Regions from separate parts of the Homo sapiens genome. Here region 2 is linked to region 1. The links come from fine-mapping of genetic effects on gene expression. A gene starts in region 1. The other region holds a variant in brackets. All regions are shown on one strand. Distances are from middle to middle.

Region 1 (8,320 bases):
TAGATCCTGGGCAAATATTGCAAGACAGAAATTCCAGATGACTTACAAAGAAGCATCCTATTAAGTTCAAAAATGTGGACAGGGCTAAGTAGAGCTATGCCGCAGGTGAAAAGCATTCGGATTAGTGAGCTCTAGAGCCAGAGAGGCTGTGTTTGAATCCCAGCTCTGCTACCCATATCTGTGAGACCATGGGTAAATTACTCAACCACTCAGAATCTCAGTTTCTCCATCTGTAAAATGGGGATGATAATAATTACAGCTGCTCTCTTTGGTTGTGTAAGAATTAAATGAGTTAGTATGTAAGTGCTTATAACAACAGCTGGCACATAGCAAATGTGAGCTAAGTTATGACTGAAAATTAGCAAGAGAACTTCTAAAGTATATTTAGCTTTTTCTTTTAAAAACTTGTTGTTTTATCTGTTTGCCTAATGGCTTAAAAACAAACAAAACAAAACAAAACAAAAAACATGTTTTTATTTATTTATTTCTTTTTTTTTTTTCTGAGATCTCCCAGGCTGGAGTGCAGTGATGCGATCGTGGTTTACTGCAGCCTTGACCTCCTGGGCTCATGCAATCCTCCCACCTCAGCCTCCCAAATAGCTGGGACTACAGGCGTGGACTACCAGGCCTGGATAATTTTTAAATTTTTTTGTAGAGATGGGGTCTCATTATGCTGCCCAGGCTGGTCTTGAATTTCTGGGCTCAAACGATCTGCCTACCTTGGCCTCCCAAAGTGCTGGAATTACAGGTGTGAATCACTGTGTCTGGTCTAAAACATGTTTTTCAATCAACAATAAAAGAATAGACTTACAGGATGTTGCCACTTTTATTGCAATAATTTTTTTCTTGTTTTGTTCAGATTTTTTCTTTTGAGACAGTCTCCCTGTGTCACCCAGGCTAGAATGCAGTGGTGCGATCTCGGCTCACCGCAACCTCTGCCTCCTGGGTTCAAGCAATTCTCATGCCTCAGCCTTCCGAGGAGCTGGGATTACAGGCATGCACCACCATGTCCAGCTAATTTTTGTATTTTAATAGAGATGGAGTTTCACCATGTTGGCCAGGCTGGTTTCGAACTCCTGGCCTCAAGTGATCCGCCAGCCTCAGCTTCCCAAAGTGCTGGGATTACAAGCATGAGCCACTGCAGCCCGCCAGCATTACCTTTTTTTATAGTGAACTTGTATTGTTTTGCCATTAAAATATTTTTAAAAAGTGCAGGGGTAAGTTTAAAAATAAGTAACTTTCACTGTAGCCTAGTTGACCTCACTCAGTAGAGATGTTGGTGGCTGAAACTAGCACCACCCAGTGCCAGCAAGGAGTAATTGCAGGTTCCAGTCTCGACCGGTTATGTGCTTGCAACAAAGCTGAGCCTGCAGAGTTCAAGTGACAGTGGGATGGCAACAGGCACCATTCAAGAGGACTGCCAGAGATTCATGGCCAAATCTATTCTGCCAAGTCAGGAGGTCTGTTCTGATTGGACCAAGCTCCTGCCACATTGGGTGTTAAATACTTTTAATATCTCCCCTGGGTGACAGAACTGTCACTTTGGAGCTTCTACCAAAGAAATGCCAAGATGGTGTTTACCCTCACCTCCCTATCAAGAACCTGAGTTACAATCCAGCCCTTCAAATGACCCACAGCTCATGCCAAGGAGGAAAAATAACTGGCAGGGTGGGGGGTAGTATGTGAATGCCCTCCTCTGTGAGTTCTAGTATGCACAGAAACACATGCACACAGAGTTCACATGTGCCATACGGCATGAGGAGGACACATGACTGGGCTCCAGCCTCAGAAACCCTAGCAGGTCCCTGGGTCAGTCACAAGTGGGGAAAAGGGATATATTTTCCTAAAAGTGAGCCCAGGATGAGCCCTTTGGTCTTAAAGAAGGTAACATTCAGTGGTAGGAGGAGCCCCAGGCTTAGGTCCTGGGCTTCAAAGAAAATGACAAACAGGCCAGCAGCCTCAGAGTCACCAATCCTGAGGGAGTGCAGAACAGGAAGGACCCCATGCTCTATATCTATGGGAACACTAGAGACAGACTTCACCCTTGGAGTGTTTGTGCCCAGATTAGGTTGGAGAGAGTGCCTGGCCTGCCTCCACCCTCAAACAGCAGGTCCAGGTCATCTGGGGAGTCCTGGGTCGGCCTGGCAGATTAATAAAAATAATGACCACTACATTGTAGTCACTGTGTCCTGCCTGAGCAACTGACATATTCAATATCTCATTTAATCCTCATAAGAATCCCACGAGGTTGACCGCACCCAACTCTTCCCACAGCTGCCAGGGGGCCAGGACCCAAGTCCTGAGGGAAGCATTTTCCTGCTCTCCCATTCCCATCGCCCGGTTCATCCTCCTCAGCCCCCAGCTCTGGACAGTGGAAAACACAAGCCTCATTCAGGAAGCTCAGGAGTCCAACCCCACAGGTCGCTCTACTCTGAGCCTGTTTGCTGGTCCATAAAAGGACTTTCCATCACTTGCTTTGCACGGTTGTTGTGGAGATGATGAGAAATAAGAACCCGTGAGGCTGGCACACAGTAGGTGCTCATTAAATGTTCGCTCCCTCTGCGCTCTGCGCATGGCTGCTAGACCAAATCTTTCCAAAACACTGCTTTCATCAGCTGCTCCCCTCAACGGCTTCCCAAACCTCTAAGATCAAGAGTCAATGTCCCCATCCTTCCCGCCCAGACTACTTTCTCGTCACAATCCCTCCAGTGGGGAGGCAGGTCGACCCCATCCCAGCAAGCAACCCTAATCCAGTCCCCCGACTGATGCTCCCCAGGGGAGGGCCCCACTCCCTCCACGCCCTTCTAGCTCATCCAGAATCCATCCATCCTTCCAGTCTCTCCAACCTCATGCCCCTCCTCTCCTACAAAGCCTGCCGGTCGGCTCTATTGCAGGACTCTCCCCACTATCCACCGGCTCCCCTGACTGGGAGCTCCCTGAGCACCGGGCCTGGGGTCTCCTACATCCTCGGTTACTGAATTCCCAGGCCGGCTGCGTCGGACGCGCCAGCAGCGCGGCCGCCCGGCAGGTCGCCGCCAAACAAGAGTCTGGACGCAGGCCAGAGGCTCGTCGGAGGCCGGCCCGGCGGGGCGGGGAGAGTTAACCCATGGCCGGGAAAAGAAGCTCCTGCTCCCCGCTCCACTCCCGGCGTCTTCACACTTGGGGAAGGGAGAGGCAGGAAGTGCAAGGACCGCGCAAGACCCGGCCCCCCGAGCCGCCAGGGGCCGCGCCAGCAGCCCAGATGCGGTGGGCGGGAGCTGGGGGGGCGGCGGGGTCCCGCGAAGACCTGCGACCTGGCGCCCTCGCCGGCTGTGTCCCGGCCAGCCCGCTTTCCAGGCGAGCCTCGCTAAGGAGTGTGAGAAACCAAATCCTCAGTGGGTAAACCGCGCTCCGTCCAGCCCACTCGGACGAGAGCTCTCCCGGGAGCCAGGCGCGTTGCTGCACCCGAGGTGGGGAAACCGGAGCCCGAAGAGCGGAAGGGGCTTATTCCAGGCGACAGGCAGTGTCAGTAACTGAATCAGGGGCCGAGGAAGTTTCCCCAGAAGCGCGGCTTCGCTCCCGGCCCGGCCCGACCCCGACTACTGTCCCCTAATACCCAGGGAGCGGAAGACGCGACCAACTCCAGGCACAGCGGAGCCGGCGCGGGGTCCACAAAGGTGAGGAGGGACAAAACCGAGACTGGGGGAGCGGGAAGGGGTGGCAGGCCCGGCTGGCCGGGGAGGGGCGGACACCCACCTGGTGCGGGTCCGGGGGCGCCGGGAGCCAGAGCGCAGAGGAGCAGGAGGAGGGGGCGCAGCAAAGGCGCGGGGCTGCGGGGACTGGGGCCGCCGGGCATGGCAGGAACCGGGCGGCCGCCGGGTGACCCCGCGCGCACGCTCTCGTCCGTCCCGTCCGGTCGCTGCCTGGTCCCAGGTCCGGCTCAGGACATGCCCGGCCGGCGTGCAGCTCCCGGCGACCCGGCCCCGACTCCGTTCGGCTGCGCTCGGTCCGCGGGCAACAAAGGCTGCAGGGCCCGCCCCCTTGGCCGCTGCAGAGGCAAAGAAAAGACAAGAGAGCTAGAAGGAGAGAAAGAAAGAAAGAAAGAAAGGGAGGGAGAGTGAGGGAGGGCGGCTGCCGGCCCCCGCCCCGCCCCTCGGACTCCTTCCCCCGCCCCTGGCCCCGCCCCGCCCCGGCCGGCCCCGGCCTCATCGGCCCCGCAGGCCGTGCTCGCCTCAAGGGCTGGCCGGCCCGGCGCAGGCAGCGCCCCGCAACGGATGTCCGCCCCCCTCGCCCCCCTGTCCCGAGCGCCCCCTGCCGGCGGAGCCCTGCCAGGCCTTTCCGACCCCGGCCGGTTGAGGACCCCCGGAAAGAATCTGGAATTTCCAGAATTAATGTGTTGTCCCTAAATTGGGCTCCACGAGGTGCCCTTCGCTGTGTTCCCCAGGCCAAGCAGGGCAGCCCCTCAAAAGGGGACGCGGGAGGCCTCCAGAGGGCCACACCGGGGGCCCTGCTTCAAAGCTATCTGCGGAGACAGGCCTGGGCCCTCCCTGGACAGACAGCGGTTGCCCGCGCGAGGTGGGGCCCCGCAGTTCCTCGTCTCCTGACTCCTCTCCTAGTGCGTTTGCTTGAAGCAGAGCGCAGAGTTGAGCCCACAGGCGGGGGACCGCGGCTTCGCCCAGGCCAGCGCCCACAGACTTTCAGCAGGGGCTCCCGGGGAGCCTGGAGGCCGGCCAACCCCAGCCTCACATCCCAGGCCAGCCTCCGCCTCCAACACCGGCCGTCTGTCCTTCGTGGCCCCAGCCCTGGCTCTGGCTTCCGGCTCCCCTTCCCCCTGTGCTCCCAGGAGCTTCCTTTCTCCCTTCTGCCGTCACTAAACATGGCCCTGTACCGAGGACGCCCGTCTTGTCCTCGGGGCGGTTGCGGTCAGCTTCCTCCCCTTGGTTAGTCTTTGTGTGCCCCCTGCCCTCTGAGGCCCGCACACCTCCTCATTGTCCAATCTCCTGGGCCCTTTCATTCAATTCCTGGAAGCTCACTTCTGGCTTCCTCTCCACCCTCAACCTGTCTGTCCTCTAGGGAATTTGTGTAGTACAGGGTCACCTACTTCCTCCATCTCATCTCCAGTGACCTTCCACTCCACCTCAGCCATCAGGTCTCAGGGCCAAAGCCTGGGCTGTGTCATCCCTCAGAACTGCTCCATCTTGGAAATCCGAAGCTCAGGTGCCCCCCTGTCAGACCCGACTCTGCAGTCCTTTCCACCTTCACAGTCCCACTATGTATTGCTCTTCCTCCAGTCCCTTGATACCTTCCTCTTCGCCCAACCTACCAGCCCCTCCTGGCTTCACCTACTTCCCTCCCAGCTACATCTACTGCTTGACTCCTGGCCCCTACCCAACCACCTTGCATTTCTTCCCCACTGCTTACACCAGCTGGTCTTGCTGCTCAGTGACATGGACAATTCAGACCACCACATCCTACCATGCACACTGCATACAATGAGCCTTTGTAGCTGGCACCCACTCACTTCTCCCTCCATCTGGACACAGTGAAACAGGTGCCCTCCAGCAGTCAGAGACAATGCTTCCACCAGGGCTCTGTGGCTCCCTCCCCTCCTGTCTCCTCAAAGGTCCTGCTCCAGGTGTCCCCCGCTTTCCTTGGTCTCCTTGGGTTGGTGACCGTCAGTCTAAAAACATTCTTGTCTTCCTCCTATTAAAGATACTGATAATAGCTGGGTATAGTGGCACAGGCCTGTAGTCCCAGTGATACTCAGGAGGCTGAGGAGGGAGGATTACTTGAACCCAGAAGTTCCAGGCCAGTCTGGGAGACATACTGAGACACTGTCTCTAGGGAAAAACAAACAAACAAACAAAAAGCAGGCAAGGTGCCTCACACCTATAATCTCAACACTTTGGGAGGCTGAGGTGGGAGGGTCACTTGAGCCCCGAGTTTGGGACCAGCCTGGGCAACATAGTGAAACACCGTCTCTACAAAAAAATTAAAAATTAGCCCAGCATGGTGGCATATGCCTGTGATCCCAGCTATTTGGGGGGCTGAGGTGGGAGGATCACTTGAGTCCAGGAGATTGAGGCTGGGCCAGGCCTGGCCCCACCAATGAGCAGTAGCCAAGATCACGCCACTGCATTCCGGCCTGTGCAACAAAGTGAGGCCCTGTCTCAAAAAAAACAAAAAAAGTACTGATAATACCCCTCCATGGACTGGGTGTCCCCTCTAATTCCCACCCCACATATCTGCTCCCTGTCTTAGTCAAACTTCTCCCTCAAGGTTGTCTAGATTCCCCCTTTTCCCATTTGTACCTCAGGCTAAGCCTCTTGTCCCCCCATCTTGGTGTCAAAGCCAAATTCCTTCTCCACCTTGACCTGCACAGTGCATTCTAGAGATACCCTCCCTGTTCACATACCTCCACTCTGCCCTCATCACCTGGCACATCTCTTCTTCACTCCATAAGATCAAGTATGCACTGCAGACCCAGGGCACTGGGGACACAGCTGTGAACAGGTGGATAAGGTCTCTGTTCCCTGGAGCTCCCACTCTGGAGGAGGCCATGGACAGCAAGCAAATAGACAGATGGATAAACAATTCAGACCACCATATAAACAAGACCAGCTACAGAGAGGTGCTTTGAAGAAAATAAAACCGGAAGTGACTAGAGTCTACTTTCCATGGGGTGGTCAGGGAAGGCCTTCCTAAAAAGGTGACATTTAAGCTGTGATACCAGAATGACAAAAAGGAGCCAGTCATGTGAAGGTGAAAGGGAGAAGATGTGAGCCAGGCATGGGATGCATGCCTGTTGTCCTACCTGCTCAGGAGAATGTGGAGGGAGGATCCTTTGAACCCAGGAGATCGAGGCTGCAGTGAGCTCTGATTGCACCACTGCACTCCAGCCTAGGCGAGAGAATGAGAGACCCTGTCTCTAGAAATAAAAATAAATCTTAAAAAGCTGGACACTGGTCAGGCGCAGTGGCTCACACCTGTAATCCCAGCACTTTGGGAGGCCGAGGATGGCGGATCACTTGAGGTCAGGAGTTCGAGACCAACCTGGCCAACATGGTGAAACCCCCTCCTCTAATAAAAATACAAAAAAAATTAGCTGGGCGTTGTGGCGGACAGATGCCTGTAATCCCAGCTACTCAGGAGGCTGAGGCAGGATAATTGCTTGAACCTGGGAGGCAGAGTTTGCTCTGAGCCGAGATCCTGCCACTGCACTCCAGCCAGCGACAGAGCGAGACTCAGTCTCAAAAAATAAAAAATAAATAAAAGATGGGCATAAACTTGATGTCCCTGAGACTTGTCCTTTCAGACCTAGGCTGTACGTCACCCCTTCCAGCACGTCCCCCCTGACCTCTTAGGTTCCCCAGAGCACCCTTTGCCATCCCCGTTGACAGCTCACTAGACTGCTATTGTCTGGTTATGGGTCTGTCAACCCCGACACACCGTGAGATGCTAAGGTCATGTCTTGGTCTTTGTGATCCCTGCCACCAGCACAGCAAAACCTAGAGATCAGGAGGATCTGGGGAGGGGACACACAGCCCTCCCTGGCCAACACCACAAACTGCCTCCATGCTGCCAAGGCCCAACAGTAGATTGGAGGCTTTTTTGAAATGCAGCCTTGGAGTTTGTGTTTTCAAATCCCACGTCTGATGACAGTCCCTGCCTGCTTCCTCCTCTGTCCCAGGTCCTGGTCTTTACTCCATCCACACCCTGCTGGGTGCCTTCATTTTAAAGCTTCTCGGAAACCATAGGATACAAAAAAAGGATACAAAAAATGATAAGCCTTAGTCATGCCCTCATGATGCAAAAATAATTCAACTGGAAAAACAGGAACAGCCAACTCCAAATTTCGGGGAGTGAAGTGTACATTTTGTTTTTGTGTTTTTCGGTTTTATTGTTGTTGTTGTTGTTTGAGATGGAGTCTCGCTCTGTTGCCCAGGCTGGAGTGTAGTGGCACGATCTTGGCTCACTACAGCCTCTGCCTCCTGGGTTCAAGCAATTCTCCTGCCTCGGTCTCCCAAGTAGTTGGGACTACAGGCATTCGCCACCTCACCCAGCTAATTTTTGTATTTTTAGTAGAGACAAGGTTTCACCATATTGGCCAGGCTGGCCTCAAACTCCTGACCTCAGGTGATCCGCCCACCTTGGCCTCTCAAAGTTCTGGGATTATAGGCGTGAGCCACCATGCCTACCCCAAAGTGTACATTTTGAACAAAGCAAGAGATTTGATATTTCAACACATATTTTATGTCATTGTTCAGAGTGTCAAGTATCCAGTTAGTGAGCTTCCCCCCTGTATCTTGATATAAATTATTTCATTTATTGTTTAAATGAT
Region 2 (8,320 bases), 52 kb before region 1:
TGCCAGCACACACTGCCATGTCCTGGGGCTAAGAGCTGCCTTTAGGGACAGGCTCGTGTTGTCCAGTTTGCCCTGAGAGATGCACCTGACCAGGGGCCCGTCGTGGCTGCAACCCACGGTGGTATGTTAGTGTTTCCAGGCAGTTGTCAGCAGCTGCCGGGTAGTGTGTGTGTGCGACAGCAGGAGAGTTCCTGGAGGAAAGGGACTGGGGACACTTTCTCAGAGGTTCTCCTGCCTGGAATCAAGTGATGCGTGTCCAGAAGGCAAGAGAGGGCGGCTCCGCCTGGTTAAAGTTTGGGAACGGGACGGAGCCAACTCCTCCTTCCAGGACTGTGGGCCCCACTCTTTTGCGCTAACACTTCCCCTCCCTCGGGTCACTGAGGAAAGAGCTGCTCTGTCCCCTCCAGTGCCCTGAAGGTCCCTGGCCTCCACTGGCTGCCATGGCAGGGGGCCCTTCTGACAGGGGCTGCCCCAAGCTGCTGTTCCTCCTCTGAACCTTCACCCCAACACCCAGCCCGTGGCCCCTGCAAGGGGGACCCTGCCAGCTGGGAAACCCAAAGGCCTGTCCAAATGCGCGCACCAGGACCGAGGGGAGCTCCCTCCCCACATCTGCTGCGAATTGCCAGCTTTTAAATGGATGGGGTTTTTTATGGGTTGAACCTCTGTTAATACTTTTGTACACTCTCACTACAGTTTATATTTTTATAGGCTATTTTCTCAAGGTGTTTCTAGATTCCACATATCTATTTTATATAACAAGTTCTTATGTTATGTGTGTGACTCCCTTGTGTGTATCTGTGCCAGCCTCAGCCTCCGAGTTGCTTTTCCCTCTGGCCCTGACTCTCACTGACTCACCGATGTGATGTGCAGGCCCACTTCTTACCCCAGATAGCCTCGGGTGCTGCCTGTAGTCATGCTGACAGCTGTACAGTAGCCGCCAAGACTGCTGACGGCTGGAGACGGTTCTGGTTTCAACAACTACGGTATATTGATATCGGAAGTATTCTAGACAGATCCTCAGTTGGGTTTTCTAGCTACATGTTTGTATTGCACAGATCCCCACCTGCCATCCTATAGTGTTGTCTTCCTGTGTGTTCCGGGGCTTCTGGGCAGCTGGGCCTGCCCGGGGAAGTCCTTGCAGGTGGGAGGCCATACAGAGACCCAGTGTGTGCCACTGAGCGTCCCACCGCTGCTGGGCAACTGGAGGACTGCAGGGGGCGCCAGGTGACTCTCTCCTTTTATATCACAGCAGCTCCTGTGCTGACCTTCAAGTTATGTTTTGGAACTGTAATACTAAAGGAAGAAATAAACTACTAATTTGTATAATATTCTGCATTGAAATTCAGTTATAGTCACTAGTGATGGGGCTCACCCCAAGGGCTTGGAGGGTGGGGCAGGGCTTATTGGTGTTGCGGGGGGCGAGGAGGGGCTCTCCAACCTTCCAGCCTGGCGTTTCTGGGTGTCTCTGCCCTTGGCTCACCCTGGGGCGGGTGCATCAGGATGCCTTTGCCAGCAGGGGCAGCCTTGGGAGGCCCCAAGAACCATGGCCAAGCTGCAGGTGTGGGCTGGGGGCACCGAGGTGGGAAAGCCGGAAGCTGGAGACTCCCTGTGTCCGGATAACCCCCCGCCCAGCCACAAAGAACAGGCATGCCTCCTTCCGCCAGCTGTGCCATGCCCTGCCTGAGTCACAGGCTTGTTTGTCTCCCGTCTTGGCTGACAGCTCAGGCCCAGCTGCCACTGGGGACACCCCCAGTCATCAGTGGAAAACACCCAAGAATGATGAAGACCAAAGGGGTTCCCATAGGGGTGTTTCGGGGTGGCTCCATCAAGGATTCCCAGACAGGGCAGGCCAAGGCCTGGCAGGCTTTTCTCTTCTGGGGACGTGGATTCAGCGAGGCTGGGGGTTCCTGGAGTCACGCAGCAGAGCGGCGGCGGCAGAGCTGGGACAGGGACTGGTTCGGTGTGTGGGTCAGGAGCAAGTCGACAGGCCCTGCTCCCCACCCCTTGGAAGGGAGTGCCACCAGGGGCCGTTCTGACTAAGGCCTGGGAAGCCGTGACTCAGAGCGTGGGTCCCCAGGGTCTCTTTGGGCCAGCCGGGCTGCTGCAGACAGACAGGAAGCACGCCTGACGCTCCTCCACCCTCGGGCAGCACAGCGGGGCTGGGACTCACGCTAGCTTGCCCAGCAACTTGCTTTCCTGCGTGAACTCTGGCAGGCTGCCCTCTCTGTGCAAAGCCACCACTGGGACCTGCTTGGGGCCCTCTCCCTCTTCCACCTGCTCAGGGTAGCCTGGAGCTTGGAGGTGGGCAGTCGGAGCCTAGGATGGGCCTGTGTCACCAGGGCATGTGCCCTTGGGCCAGGTACTTCCTCTCAGAGCCTTGAGTTCCTCCTCTGAGGATCGGGCTTGTTGGTGTGAAATGAGGTGAGCATGTTGAATTGGGGAGCAGCAGGACACGCACCTGCAGGCAGCTGCCGTGGCCATGCTCCCTCCCTCCCTTCCAAGTCCTGGGACAGACGCTCATCGCCGAGGGGTTCAGCCTCTGATACTGTTTCTTGGTCTCAGCCCCTAAGGAGTAATTTTATTTTATTTTTTTTGTGTGAGATGGAGTCTCGCTCTGTCGCCCAGGCTGGTGTGTAAAGGTGCGAACTCAGTTCACTGCAACCTCCGCCTCCCAGGTTCAAGCGATTCTCCTTCCTCAGCCTCCCAAGTAGCTGGGATTACAGGTCCCCATCACCGCACCTGGCTAATTTTTGTATTTTTAGCAGAAATGGGGTTTTGCCACATTGGCCAGGCTGGTTTCAAACTCCTGACCTCAGGTGATCCGCCCGCCTCAGCCTCCCAAAGTGCTGGGATTACAGGTGTGAGCCACCGCGCCCAGCCAGGAGTGATTTTCAGTGGTGTCCCCTCCATCCCCAGCATATACCCAGCCCTGAGTGGCTGCGGCTGCCACATGCAGGCTCCAGGGCTACATTCACCTTTCGTCCAGGGTTGTCATACGCTGGAGAGTAGAATGTGAGAGGTGACCCCTGTAGGCTGCAGGGCGAGCTCTCTGAACCTTAGTGTCCCCCACCTGGAGAAGGGGCGTAACACCTTCCAGGGGGAGGGCTGAGGAAGAAATTGTCAACGGCTGAGTCTAAGGCTCACAGCCAGAGGCCAGGGTTGGATCCAGGGCTGGGCCTGGGCCTGGGGGGACAGTGTCCGCCCCTTCCCCAGCCTCCCGCCCCTGGTCAGGCCAGGACCCTCTTCAAAGCACCTTCATGCCCATCTGTTCCCTGCTGTGGGCACTACTGTCTGGCTCCATGGGACTAGATTTTATGGGAGGGGAAGGGGCTGTGGGTAGGCAGGTGCCAGGTGCTGGACCATAGATCAGCGTGGTAGGAACCTGTAGCTGGGGCTGGTGGTGGGAAAGGGGCCAACCTGAGGCAGTGACAATTAGCCCAGCCCTATCTCTGGGCACAGAGATGAAGGGACACGTGGGGACACAGTAGGGCACAGCTGGCCAGCCTGCTCTTCCCCTCTCTGCCTGCTTTTTGCAGAAGAGTCAACAGATAGAACAGACAGGGCCAGGGAGGTCCCCATGGGGGCCCCAGTCCCCACCACTCCAGGGGGCAGTCCCTGCAAGTGACATGGTGGGCTCAATCCCTGTGGAACAGGTCTCTGAGGACCACAGAGTGGGGCCCCAGGGAAGGCTGGGAGCCTGAGCTGAAGGCAGGCAGCAAGTAAGGGCCAAGCCGTGCCCCTGCCCGGAAGACCTTCCTGCCCCCAGAACCCCACCCTCTGCAGACAGCCCTCCCTGGGGAGCAGCCCCCCAGCTTCTGAGGCCTTCCGTGCCTCACCAGATGCCATGCTCTCAGGGACTCATTTTCTACGCTGCCCCCTGCAGATCTGTCCCAGAGGAGCAGGTGAAAAGCCACGCCTGCCGAGGTGCTGTGGCGGTGGAGTTTTGGGCAGAGGGGTGGGGGGAAGAGTTTCTCACTTTTAAGATTCTCCAAATCCAAGACGAAGTCACGCTGTGCTTTGGAATGGTAGATGCTCATTTATGTAAAATCATAATAAATGTTACACAAACTGTTAGAATAAAAAAATACCTTTTTTGAGGGGGAGGAGGTCCCCAGCCTGCTGCTGGGTAGTGAGAGGGGGTTAGCACCATTAGGGCGCAGGGGGCGGGAGCTC[C/T]GCCACAGCCCGTGGTGGGCACTGAGGTCTGTCGGTCGGTCTGTGCATCCTGGCGCAGTCAGCGGCGGGCAACCCGCTGATGGCCTCGGGAGGGGGCGCCGTGGCTGGGCGGAGAGCACGAGCGGCAGCACTGGGTGCGGATGGTGGGCAGCTGGCAGCGGCCCAGTAGGCGCAGCGTCTCGCAGAACCCGAAGGACAGGCGGTCCCGCTCACAGCCTGGAGTGGGGGGGCAGAGAGGCATCAGAACCAGTAGCTTGGGGTACCCAGAACCTGGCTCCCTACGCCAACCACCTTAAGGAGGCTCCAGCAGCTCCCCACCAAGCAGAGAGCCCCAGTTTCTGGAGCGGCTCCCGAACCGGAGTTGCAGGTCTCCAACTGTTGCTGTCTCTGTCCCACCTACTCATGGCCAACCCCAGGACTCGAGAACGGGTGCTGCTGGGCTGAGGTTTCTGGAGGAAAGGTCCTGAGACCCCACCCTGACCCCCTCACATGCCTGTTAAAGAGCCTGCCCAGGGCGACGCCTTGCCACCCCATCTCCATCCTTGCTCATCCCTGGTGTTCCCGGACAGATCCTGGCACAGAACTGCGGTCCCGGGGCCTCCTGCCAGCCTGCAGCGGCCTCTGCCCCCGACTCCCGCCACCGCCCCCTGCCCCAGTGCATCTGTCCTGCCAGGCCTCCGTGACCACCTCCAGCCACAGGGGCTGTACTCAGCCTCGGGTTCTGAGTCACAGGGTCCCATCTCCCAGGCCAGCCTCCCACTTCTCAGGTGGGCCACGAAGCCTAGAGTGAGTGGGCCTTACAGGCCGTCAGCGGAAACCAGAGACTGAGCCCAGCCTGCTGGGGAGGGAGGCCAGCTGCAGGCTGTGCTTGTCAGGGCTGAGGCTTGGCTGGGCCCTCCTGCCCCGTGGTTATCAGAGCTATTTTGGGAAGTGGCTTGTTTCCAGCCTCCTGGCCTTGCTCCTGATGCCACTGCCACTGCTGACAGCCCCCAGCTGCCACCCGGGCCCTGCTTACTCCAGCAGACCTCCCTGGGGAGGAGGAGCAGGAAGGCAGCAGCCAGCCCTGGGCCTGGGACATCCCCCAGGCCCGGCAGAGGGCACGAGGCAGCAGGCAGGCTCCTCCACCCCAGCTCCAGGCAGAGCTCCAAAGTGCACATCTGCAGGCCTGCATCCTGGTCGCCCGGGGTGACCTCAGACAAGCTGCTTCACCTCTTGGGCCTCGGTTCCCTCCTCTGTCAACCCCACCTCCACAGCAAATGGATGTGGCCATGCTGTGTCACTGCAGTGAGCACACACACACGAGTTTCCCAGCTTTCCACATGTCCCGCCAACTGTCCCACAGACCAGCAGAACATCTGGGAATTCCAGGTCTCCAAGTCCAAGACACCTTCCCAGCCCCCCTCCACTGTTCACTGATGGCAGAAAACTCCTCACTTAGGACAGCTTCTAGTTCAGCCACCTAACCAGCCCCCATAGCCCACTCCCTGCAGCCCACTCACACCCGCCCCTGGGAGACCTTGCAAGCCCAGAGCCTCCTGGGCCATCCGTCCTTGGTTCTAGGCCCCCAGGGGCCTCAGTTTCTGTTCTCTGCCCCATCTGGTCCTCCCCCACTGGGATCATAACCACCCCGCTCCCTGTGGCCAGCCCTAGCCATAAAGGTGAGAGACGTGGTGCCAGCACCCAGCTCAGGTAGCACATAGGAGTGCTCTGAGATGCTGGCTGGGTGCGTGCTGAGGGCAGGCAGGACAGGGTGGGGGCGCTGCCACTGGGCCTTGAGGTTTGAGGCAGGAAGACCACCCATGCCAGAGGCAGGGCAGCGAGGCATGGCAGGGGCCACTCTGAGCCTGAATGAGGGCTGCCCAGGAGCTGGCACAGGTAGAGAAGGCAGCGTTGGACAAGGGGAGAAGGCAGACCGGGGAGATTGCAGGGGGCCCTGAATGCCAGCTTGAGGGCCCTGGCTGAGGACTCTGTCCTAGGGGCAGGGAGCAGACAGCCAATAGCACAGGGGACACAGCTCTTCACGCCACGGCTTCTGGATTCCTTAGACTGGCAGGGTCAGCCCCAGGCCCTCTCCCTGACCTTGCAATTGGGGATGACAGTGGCTGTGGGGGAGGGGAAAAAGCCACCTTCCCTGAGCACCACCTGGATCCCCACGCAGTGCTGCGTGCTTCATGCCCAGACCTCATTTATGCAAGGATGGGGCTTGGCAGCCCCTTTATTCAGCACATGAAGGCCCTGAGAGGGAAATGGAGCCCAAGGCCACACAGCTGGTGAGGGGAGCCTAGGTGACACTCCAGGGCCACCCCATTTCCTGCCCTCAGCACTTCCGGGAGCAGCTGGGGCTGCAGGAAGGAAGTGTATGACTGTGTGTGTGTGTGTTGGCGTGTGTGTGTGTGTGCGCGCACGCACACATGCTGGAGGCGGCGGCAGGGGTGTCCAGAACCACCTCTACCTCAGGCCCTTCCACCAGGACCCAGCTGGCCAGGAAACCCCCCACCACTGGGATTAACAGGACCCTGGAAGGGAGGCCCTTCCTGCCTCAAACCCCATTACCTCATTAGCAGGACCCTGGAAAGGAGGCCCTTCCTGTGGTTCCATTGCTCACTCTAGGCAGTCCTCTAGCCAGGGAATGGACAGGCCAGGGCTGGGGACAGGGACTCACCCAGGCCCAGTTTTCACACAGCCTCAGGGACATCCCTGGTCTCACTGTGGGAAGACTGAGACCTAGAGGAGAAAGAGCTTACCCAGGTTCACACAGCAAATCAGGGGCCAGGGCCACTCCCTCTACTCCCCCAAGGTCAGACAGCTGCCTATGGGATGTTGTGTGGCCGGGACTCCCCTTGACTGACTCCCAGCACAGCCCAGCCTCCAGCATGGCATCCTGTGGCATCAGGATTTTCAGTGGCCATGTGGCTCCTGAGCCCAGACTACAGATGGAACCAGCCAGTGCCGTGGGCACAATGGTTTGACGACCCCATTTCCCCATCACCCTCCCCACCCCACCTCACTTCAGCAGGGAGCCTGGGGTCAGGGGACTCACGGGGAGGCTCGACGGGCTCACAATCCTCGGTGCCACACGGCCGGGAGCTCTCAGGCCAGGCCTCGTGGCCACACTGGTCACTGTCTTCCTCGGGCAGCCCTGTCTGGGTGTTGACACACTTGACCAGGCGCCGCTGGACACCACCACCACAGGGGCCTGAGCACTGAGGGGAGCGGGGGAGGAATGAGTGTCTCCAGGGCCAGCCCTAGCAGTGGGGGCAGGGACACCTCCTCTGGGAAGCCGTCCCTGCGCCCTGTGCCTGACTGGCCTGGCCTTGCTCCCAGCCGCCCCCTCAGTGCCTCCTGGAGCACCTGGTCCCATTCCTAGAGCCCACTTGGTGCTGGAACCCCACTCTCACTTGTGGGATCGGCTCCTGCAGAGGGAAGGGGCGTGAGAACCGTGGGACAGCCCTCGGGGCGGCAGGGCAGTGAGCCCCTCACACAGGACATGCCTGAGAAGCCTGGGCAGGGGCGCCGGGATGGAGCCCTGATGCAGCAGTGGGCAGAGATGTGGGCGAGACACCGCTGTGCCCGAGGGACAGGGCAGAGGACCTGCCGCAGCCCATGGGCAGGAGGGCAGGAGACAGTTTCACAGCCGGGGCCCAGCCCGCCAGGCTTCGTTGTTATCAGCCCTAAACATGCACTGAGTCTGTGCCAGTGTCATGCTGTGCCCGGCCCTGTGCTTCGTTGCGTTCCTTCATTTAATCCTCCTGACCCTCCTCTCCTAAGCTGTTCCAGTTTTACAGATGAGAAAACAGTGACCCAGCAACGCAAAGCAACCTGCCCAGAGTCACTCAGCAGCCAGTCGGACAAAGACGCAAACGCTGGCCCAGCTGACTCCAGGACCCAGCTCAGGGCCCAAATCTGAGATTTCTGAACCCCTCAGTTCCAAACAGGCCCAGCAGAAGGTGTCCTGCCCATCTGAGGCCCCTCTTACGCCCCCTTCTGCCGCTGGCCTTTGCCGGGCTCCCCGGCCCCCTCAAGCTCGTCATTCCTGCCTCAGACTTCACACCTGATGTCCCTTCGATCCCTGTCCTTGGCATCACTGACTCCTCCCTCGGGTCTCAACCCCAGACCCCTCCTTGGAAGGCCTTCCCTGACACCACAG

Evidence for each region. PIP is the estimated chance that this variant, and not a neighbour inherited with it, causes the effect.
Region 2: its variant is fine-mapped to the expression of ADAMTS7 in lung (TOPMed, PIP above 0.99).

Annotation. Positions count from the first base shown.
Region 1 is chr15:78,807,386-78,815,705 of GRCh38, forward strand. It overlaps ADAMTS7 (ADAM metallopeptidase with thrombospondin type 1 motif 7), which reads right to left and starts at 4,079. Exons shown (of 24, transcript NM_014272.5): 1 at 3,736-4,079. The coding sequence starts at 3,835. RefSeq lists a silencer at 4,107-4,526.
Region 2 is chr15:78,755,190-78,763,509 of GRCh38, forward strand. It overlaps ADAMTS7 (ADAM metallopeptidase with thrombospondin type 1 motif 7), which reads right to left. Exons shown (of 24, transcript NM_014272.5): 23 at 7,214-7,376; 24 at 4,017-4,389. The coding sequence ends at 4,232. LOC112268143 (a long non-coding RNA gene) reads right to left here and starts at 2,556. Exons shown (of 2, transcript XR_002957697.1): 1 at 2,459-2,556; 2 at 775-1,293. RefSeq lists enhancers at 1,133-1,937, 1,613-1,822, 1,938-2,742. The variant C/T (reference allele first, on the strand shown) is at 4,174.